Linked DNA regions of Homo sapiens. Each later gene encodes a partner of the first gene's protein in a complex. Each region holds a gene or a part of one and is shown in the gene's direction. Other genes may lie near its edges.

The links. The genes of interacting proteins can lie anywhere in the genome.
Region 2: POLR2B (region 1) and GTF2A1 share a complex: the UniProt entries of both Homo sapiens proteins name them as parts of the TBP-based Pol II pre-initiation complex.

Annotation. Positions count from the first base shown.
Region 1 is NC_000004.12:57,016,759-57,020,711, forward strand, and holds part of POLR2B (DNA-directed RNA polymerase II subunit RPB2), read left to right. Parts: intron 1-284; coding exon 285-483; intron 484-801; coding exon 802-970; intron 971-3,953. UniProt on the Homo sapiens protein: Catalytic core component of RNA polymerase II (Pol II), a DNA-dependent RNA polymerase which synthesizes mRNA precursors and many functional non-coding RNAs using the four ribonucleoside triphosphates as substrates.
Region 2 is NC_000014.9:81,214,360-81,217,959, reverse strand, and holds part of GTF2A1 (transcription initiation factor IIA subunit 1), read left to right. Parts: intron 1-1,445; coding exon 1,446-1,547; intron 1,548-3,600. UniProt on the Homo sapiens protein: TFIIA is a component of the transcription machinery of RNA polymerase II and plays an important role in transcriptional activation. TFIIA in a complex with TBP mediates transcriptional activity.

The DNA of each region.
Region 1 (3,953 bases):
CCAATGTATACTCTCTTCTTCACAAGTATATACTGGTAACAGTTAGGTGTGTATTCTTCCAGTGCTTATTCTCCAGCAGCTTACCTATTTCACTTGTCAACAATCATGTAACTATGTTGGTCAGTTATATATAATATTAAACTATATATATATATAAATATATATGTATATTTAATATATAATATTAAACTTATTTAAATATAAATATAGGAATACTTTTAAGTAGGAGGAATAGTTAGTTAAAATACTTGAGGAAGTAGAAAATTGAGTGAATTCTTTTTTAGTTGGCAGGATCTTGTGGCCAGTGGGGTAGTGGAGTATATTGATACCCTGGAAGAAGAAACAGTGATGCTTGCAATGACTCCAGATGATTTACAGGAGAAAGAAGTAGCTTATTGTTCCACATATACACACTGTGAGATTCATCCCTCAATGATCCTTGGTGTCTGTGCATCTATTATTCCCTTTCCTGATCATAACCAGGTTGGTATCACTTTTTGTCTTCTGGTGTGAGGAATTGGGAGAAGTAATAAAAATTGAAAGTAACTCTGTAGTCTTATCTGGAGGGAAAAAGCCTTTTAATGAAAAGGCTATTAACTCCTACGGAATCAGTATTTGATATAATTGCTGTTGTGTTTCATGGTTAAGAGCCGTAATTGATTATTCCAAATGGTTATTACTTACTGTTTTTGAAAAAAATCAGGAGTTTTACCAATCATATTTCTTTTGATTTATTGTCAGAGTCTTTTCCATTAGTGATAGTAACTTTTTGTTGTTTCTGCTTTTCATTTTTACGTTTAGTCCCCTAGAAACACATACCAGTCTGCTATGGGTAAGCAGGCTATGGGAGTTTACATCACCAACTTCCATGTTCGCATGGACACATTGGCCCATGTTCTCTATTATCCTCAAAAGCCACTTGTGACTACACGGTCTATGGAATATCTACGATTTAGAGAGCTGCCAGCAGGTATGGTCAGTTTTGCTCTACGTTATTTAAGATCCTTCTGTGCTTAAGGCACTTTTCTGGGTGCTTGGGAGGATTAAAAAATAAATATGACATAGTGCCTGTTCTCACGGAATTTATAATATGGTGGGAAACATGAACATAATAAAAAGGTAGGTATGTGGAAAGTGTTTTGGTGGAGGTACAAAGTCCTTTGGAAGCACAGACTGATGGAAGCAATTAATTCCTGTTGGAAGTCTAGATCCAGTTTCATGGAGAAGGTGGCATTTTAGATTGGAGCAAAATTGATGAAGGGGTATTTGCATTTGAGAGGTGGTTTAAGCAAGGGCCCAGATGGACGAAGACATGCAAAATGTACGGTACAGTTAGTCATGTCAGCTTAGTGGGAGTGGAGTGTAAATATATGGAAGTGAAAGCTTGGTCTCAGTGTGGAGAGAGCTTGAACAGGTTGAATTTTATTTTGAAAATGGAGACCCATCCAACCTTTTGGATCAGGGAAGTAATACAATTAGAAATTTGTTTTAGGAATACCATTCTGACAGCGGCATAAAGAGTAGATTACAATCAGGTACTGTATTAACAGGGAGCTAATTTAGGGGTTTTTGCAGTAGTATAAATGTGAAATGGCAAGGTCCTAAAGAAATGAAAAAGAATGATGGGTAAGATACCTTTTGAAATACACTTGATAGGACTTGATGACTGGTTGAGTGTGGAGCAATGAAGAGAGGAATTGGAAATACTGTTGGTGTTTGTGGCTTGGGTGATTAAAGAGAGGTGCTTTGAATAGGTTGGGGGAAAAATAAGATTGGGAACATGTTAGAAGGGGAAAGAGGTTTTAGAGGTAAGACAATAATTTTGTTTTGGATATGTTGATTTAGTGTCTTAGTGTCAGAACACTAAGACGTGAACTTCCAACAGTGAGTTGCAAACATGATTTGAAAGACGGTCAAGTCTAGAGATGTAAAATTTTTAATTTATTAATGATAATTATAGATTACTATGAAATTGCCTAAGGAGAATTTAGAATGAGAAAAAGGCCAGAGGCAGACAATTTTAGACACCAGGAAGAGAAATTAAGAGAGAAGATTTGAGAAGTAGCTGATAAGGAGGGGAATTCCAGGTTTGTAGGAGATTCTCAGGGAGACTGGATGGTGGGTAAAATGGTGAAGAGAAATCTGAAGGGTATGAGTGTTGACTATTAAAGGAGACAGTAGAGTTCTTTGGCACTGTTATCTTTTGTATTAACAGACTTTTGGCTTTGAATGTGGGTAACATTTGTTATTTGTTAGTAAAGTTTATCTTTAGTGTATTGTAATGGGGCTCTACCATTTTGATAGCAAATTCTCATAGGTTAAAATTACTTATTTTCAAAATCCTCCACAAGGGGTTCCTCTTGTCTAGAAAAGCAAAATCTGTTAGGTTGTCTACACAGTATGCATGTATCTTTGGGCTGTGCTTGCAGTGCTGTGTTTTCTCCAACATTTAGATAATACAGTTTCTTTATGGCTAGAGAGGAAAATAAATATACAGAAGGACTAGGTTTGAAAGCAAATGTTCCTTTGGTACTGGTGTGAAGTGGAGAGTCATGGCTGGCAGGGACTGCAGTTCTGTTATTCCTGACTTCATCATGGCATCTTTATTTTGAAATTCTTTTTTTTTTTGTAGAGATAGGGTCTACTTTGTTGCCCAGGCTGGTCTCAAACTTCTGGGCTCAAGTGATTTTCCCACCTCAGCCTCCCAAAGTGCCGGGATTACAGATGTAAGCCACTACGGCCAGCCCATCGTACCATTTTTAAAAAAACTTTTAACATTTTACCACATTTGCTCTATTATTCTCTCCCTTTTTATTTCTCCTCCTGAACCACATGAGAGTAAGTTGCAGGCATGAAGCCATATCATTCTTTAATTCTTCAGTATGTGTTTCCTAAGAACAAGGACATTCTCTGCAGTGTAGCCATCAAAATCAGGGTAACATTGATATCCATATAGTCAGCAGTCCTCAATTCAAATTTTGCCAGTTGTCCTAATGATGTCTTTTTTTTTTTTTTTTTTTTTTGAGAAAGCAACTGTTATTGTATTCAAACCTAACGATGTCTTTAATGGGTCTAGGAGCTAATCCAGGATTGTGCATTGCATTTAATTGCATGGTTCTTTAGTTTCCTTAATCTAGAACAGTTTCTCAGTCTTTCCTTGTCTTTCATGACCTTGACATTTGTGAAGAGTTCAGGAAAGTTATTTTTGCATTGTGTCTCAATTTAGGTTTGACTATTGTTTCCTCATGATGATATCCAGGTTATGAATATCAAGTTATTTTATTTTATTTTTTTGAGACGGATTCTCGCTCTGCCACCAGGCTGGAGTGCAGTGGCACGATCTTGGTTCGCTGCAACCTCTGCCTCCTGGGTTTAAGCGATTCTTCTGTCTCAGCCTCCTGAGTAGCTGGGACTGCAGGCGCGTGCCACCACGCCCAGCTAGTTTTTGTATTTTTATTAGAGGTGGGGTTTCACCATGTTGGCCAGGATGGTCTCAATCGCTTGACCTTGTGATCCACCTGCCTCGGCCTCCCAAAGTGCTGGGATTACAGGCGTGAGCCACCATGCCCGACCTAAATATCAAGTTATTTTATGGGCTCATCAAACAAAGTGTTTTGGCAGCAGCAACTAAGAATTTCATTGTGGTGGGAAAGATATGATATTTTCTTGGTGGCAGAAGGAGAGGGGAATGGGGTAGTATCAGTTTCAAACCTAAAAGCTGGGGCTTGAGTCTATTGCTTATTAATTTTGGGATCATGGGTAGATTATTAATTCACTCCTCTGATTCATGAGAATAATAATGCTTATCTTGTTTATGGCACAGAGTTGCTGTGAGGATCAGGAAACTTGGTTTGGGGAGGCACTTCCTAAGTAGGAGGTGACTCATGTGTAATCACTTACTATAAGAATGGATACATTGGGAGTGACTAGTCCTAGGATTTGCTTGTGGGAGA
Region 2 (3,600 bases), on another chromosome or scaffold:
AATAAACTTCAAGAGGCGGATTTGGCAAAATAAAGCAGGTTAGTGAGTGAACAGTAAAGCAAGAACCCAGATATTTGAATTGGTTTTCTTGTAATGAGAAGGATTAAATAGTATTTAATGGTTGAGGTAAATTGTATTGACAAACTCATTTGTATTTGTTTGTTTTCTGAGACAGGGTCTGGGCCTGTCACCCAGGCTGGAGGGCAGTGGTGCAATCTTGGCTCACTGCACCCTCTCCCTCCTGGGCTCAAGCCATCCTCCCACCTCAGCCTCCCAAGCAGCTGGGACTACAGGCACGTGCCACCACTCCTGGCTAATTTTTTGTGGAGATTGGGTTTCACTATGTTACCCAGGCTGGTCTTGAACTCTTGAGCTCAAGCGATCCTCCCAAAATTGGTTTTATTTGATAGCGATTAACCTTAAGCAAGGTATGAAACAGAAGTAATGAGAAAACATCTAAAAAGCTTGTTAACCATAACCCTCTGATAATGGGGAGGATTTATAACCAGGCAACTCTAGTTTTGTCAAGGCAGCTCTAGTTTTGTCATCTGACATGACTTCCTTTTGTCTAACAGGTTAAAAATAGGATGTGGGGGAAAAAATAGGATGTGGATTGGGCTAATTGTTCTATCTCCCACTTTGTAGTTTTTAAAAAATATTTTATACTTTTTGAAAGTTCTTTCACATCTATTCTCATTTTACTCATTTTACCATTCAACCTTCTAGAAGCCAGCTTCTTTACTTCCCGCTCCTCCAAGTAGTATCAACGGTGCTAATTGTAATAATAATAGTAAACATTTAGAGGGTTCATGTTCATTATAATGTTTCATAGCATTACCTGGGCAGTAGTAGAGGAGAAATCCTGGGAAGGAAATCAGTATACCTTGTTCCTTGGGACCTTAAGACCTGCCATTGTGAGTGTATGAGTAGTTTAATGGTACAGCTTGAAAGTACAGACTGGGTCACACAACAGAAGTTAGGTGATTTTTAAACCTGAATGTTCATTAGGTTGCAGATTATTACCAGGCAGATGACTCCCGGACATAAGATTCTCCAAAGTCTAAGATACAGTGGTGAGGTAGTAAGACATACAACAGAGTTCAAACCAAGCATGGAATAGTAGAAGCCAGACATAAGCAACCCGTAAAGCTATTATTGAACATTACATTAGGTATTTTGACTACAACATAGGAAATTATAATTGGAAATTGTATGGACCTTGTAGTCTTAGGGGCCTTCTGTTTATGAACTGCATTAATCTTAAAATTTTTATTAAAGTGTGCAGTCATCAAATCCAGTTTATGGCAAATGATGGTGGTCGTATCTTTAAAGTCATATATAGATAGTTGGCAAAATGACTATTCGTTTTGAATTTGTGAAAACCTGTTATACATTATAAGCTGTGAAAAACTGTCTTTTTCAAGTCTTTTATTTTTCCTTTAAAGCCTAAATTATACAGATCTGTGATTGAAGATGTCATTAATGATGTGAGAGACATCTTTCTGGATGATGGAGTGGATGAACAAGTACTGATGGAACTAAAAACTGTGAGTTTGTCTTTTTTTTAAAATATTCCTACTTTTCCCCCACAAAACATTTTCTTTAGCCGGAGATGAATCTGTAATTTTTCTATAGGATGAACGTATAGTTGAGTGAAGTGTGCTGGTTTTAAATCCCAACTCTGCCATGCATTCTTCCTCTGACCTTAGGCAAGCTACATTTATATTTCAGTTTTCTTATACGTAAGATGGAAATTGGTAGTACTTACCTTATAGGTTTGTTTTGAGGATTAAATGGAATAACCATATAAAATCTTAGCACAATGCTTGATAGTAGCATTAGCAGTTATTATTGGATAGTTAACATTCTACATTTTATGGTCTAATTACTTGACATGTCTGGAAGAATTTTGTTGCTTTCTTTTTTCGTTTTTTATTTTTGAGACAGGGTCGGGCTCTGTCGCCCAGGCTGGAGTGCAGTGGCACAATCTGGACTTACTGCAACCTCTGCCTCCCAGACTCAAACCATCCTCCCACCCCTGGGACTACAGGCACATGCCAGCATGCCTGGCTAATTTTTGTATTTTTGGTAGAGATGGTTTTCACCATGTTGTCAAGGCTGCTTTCGAACTCCTGGCTGCAAGTGATCCTCCCGCCTCGGCCTCCCAAAGTGATAGGATTATGGGTGTGAGCCACAGCGCCCAGCCTTAATCTTATCTTTTTTTAATGGTCTTAATGTACCTGTATTCTAAAGTGTGTTTTAAGTTGTAGGGATTAAGTGCTTGATAAAAGAATTTTAGGTTCTTGAAGTAGACCCTTTATGTAGGCCGAATGTTTTGAATATATTTTACATTGAGAGCTGGTTTTCTGTATCTTGGATTCAAGTGGAAATATTTAGATTTTTTTTATTAGCAGTTGTGTTTTCCTTGCATTGTAATGACTCATGAAATTGTGGAATATTTTTGCCCTGTTGATTAGAATAGTGGTTCTCAAGGTATAGTTCATGGAGCCCTGGATTCTCCCCAAGGGTTCTTTCAGGGGGTCCACAAGGTTGACTAAATGCTTAAGTCTGGAAAATCATAGTTTGCCCGTCATTCTTTCAAGTAAAAGTTGTATTCTGTGAGAAAAGTGACCAGTTAAATTCACAATTCAAGTGCACAGGTGCTTTTCCTTGAGATAACTGTAAATAAGCAGCAGAAATGCTTTATGTATACTTCTCATTTCTGACAAACTGAATATTAAAAAGATGAGGACTCAATGTTGATATTAAGAAATTTGATTGTTTGATATTCCGTAATGAAGTGTGTTTACAGTTGAAAGATCCATATAATTCACTGAACTTGTATTTTCTGAATATCCAATGCATAATGTTGGAAAATTCATTCAAAATGCAAGATAAATTAATGGACTTTAAAAGTATGAAAAGTTCACAGTTATATGGTTTCATATTCTGCATTGTAACTAACTATTAAGAAACTGTCACTTAAAAGTACCTTTTCTTTTCCCAACTACTTAATTGTAGGAAGGCAGATTTTCTTTGTACACCTCCACCAAAACAAAGCAAAAACAGGGTCAGATACGAGAATCTAGCTATTTTCCTTTAAGTCATTTGTCATTCTCACTCAATTTTATTTACTAAAATATGGCTATTTTCAGAAAAATGTTATTTATGTTAACATATAATGGATCCATTATTTCTAAACAAATTAGTGAAAATTAAAAATTTGTTATAATTTCTATTAGTATAAATATAGGTGGATGTAATTCACATACAGAAAAGCTCTTTGAGGGTCTCAGTAATTTTTTTTTTTTTTTGAGACGGAGTTTCGCTCTGTCACCCAGGCTGGAGTGCAGTGGTGCTATCTTGGCTCACTGCAAGCTTTGCCTCCCTGGTTCATGCCATTCTCCTGCCTCAGCCTCCCAAGTAGCTGGGACTACAGGCGCCCGCCACGACGCCTGGCTAATTTTTTTGTATTTTTAGTAGAGATGGGGTTTCACCGTGTTAGCCAGGATGGTCTCGATCTCCTGACCTTGTGATCCCCCCACCTCGGCCTCCCAAAGTGCTGGGATTACAGACATGAGCCACCGCTCCCGGCCGGGT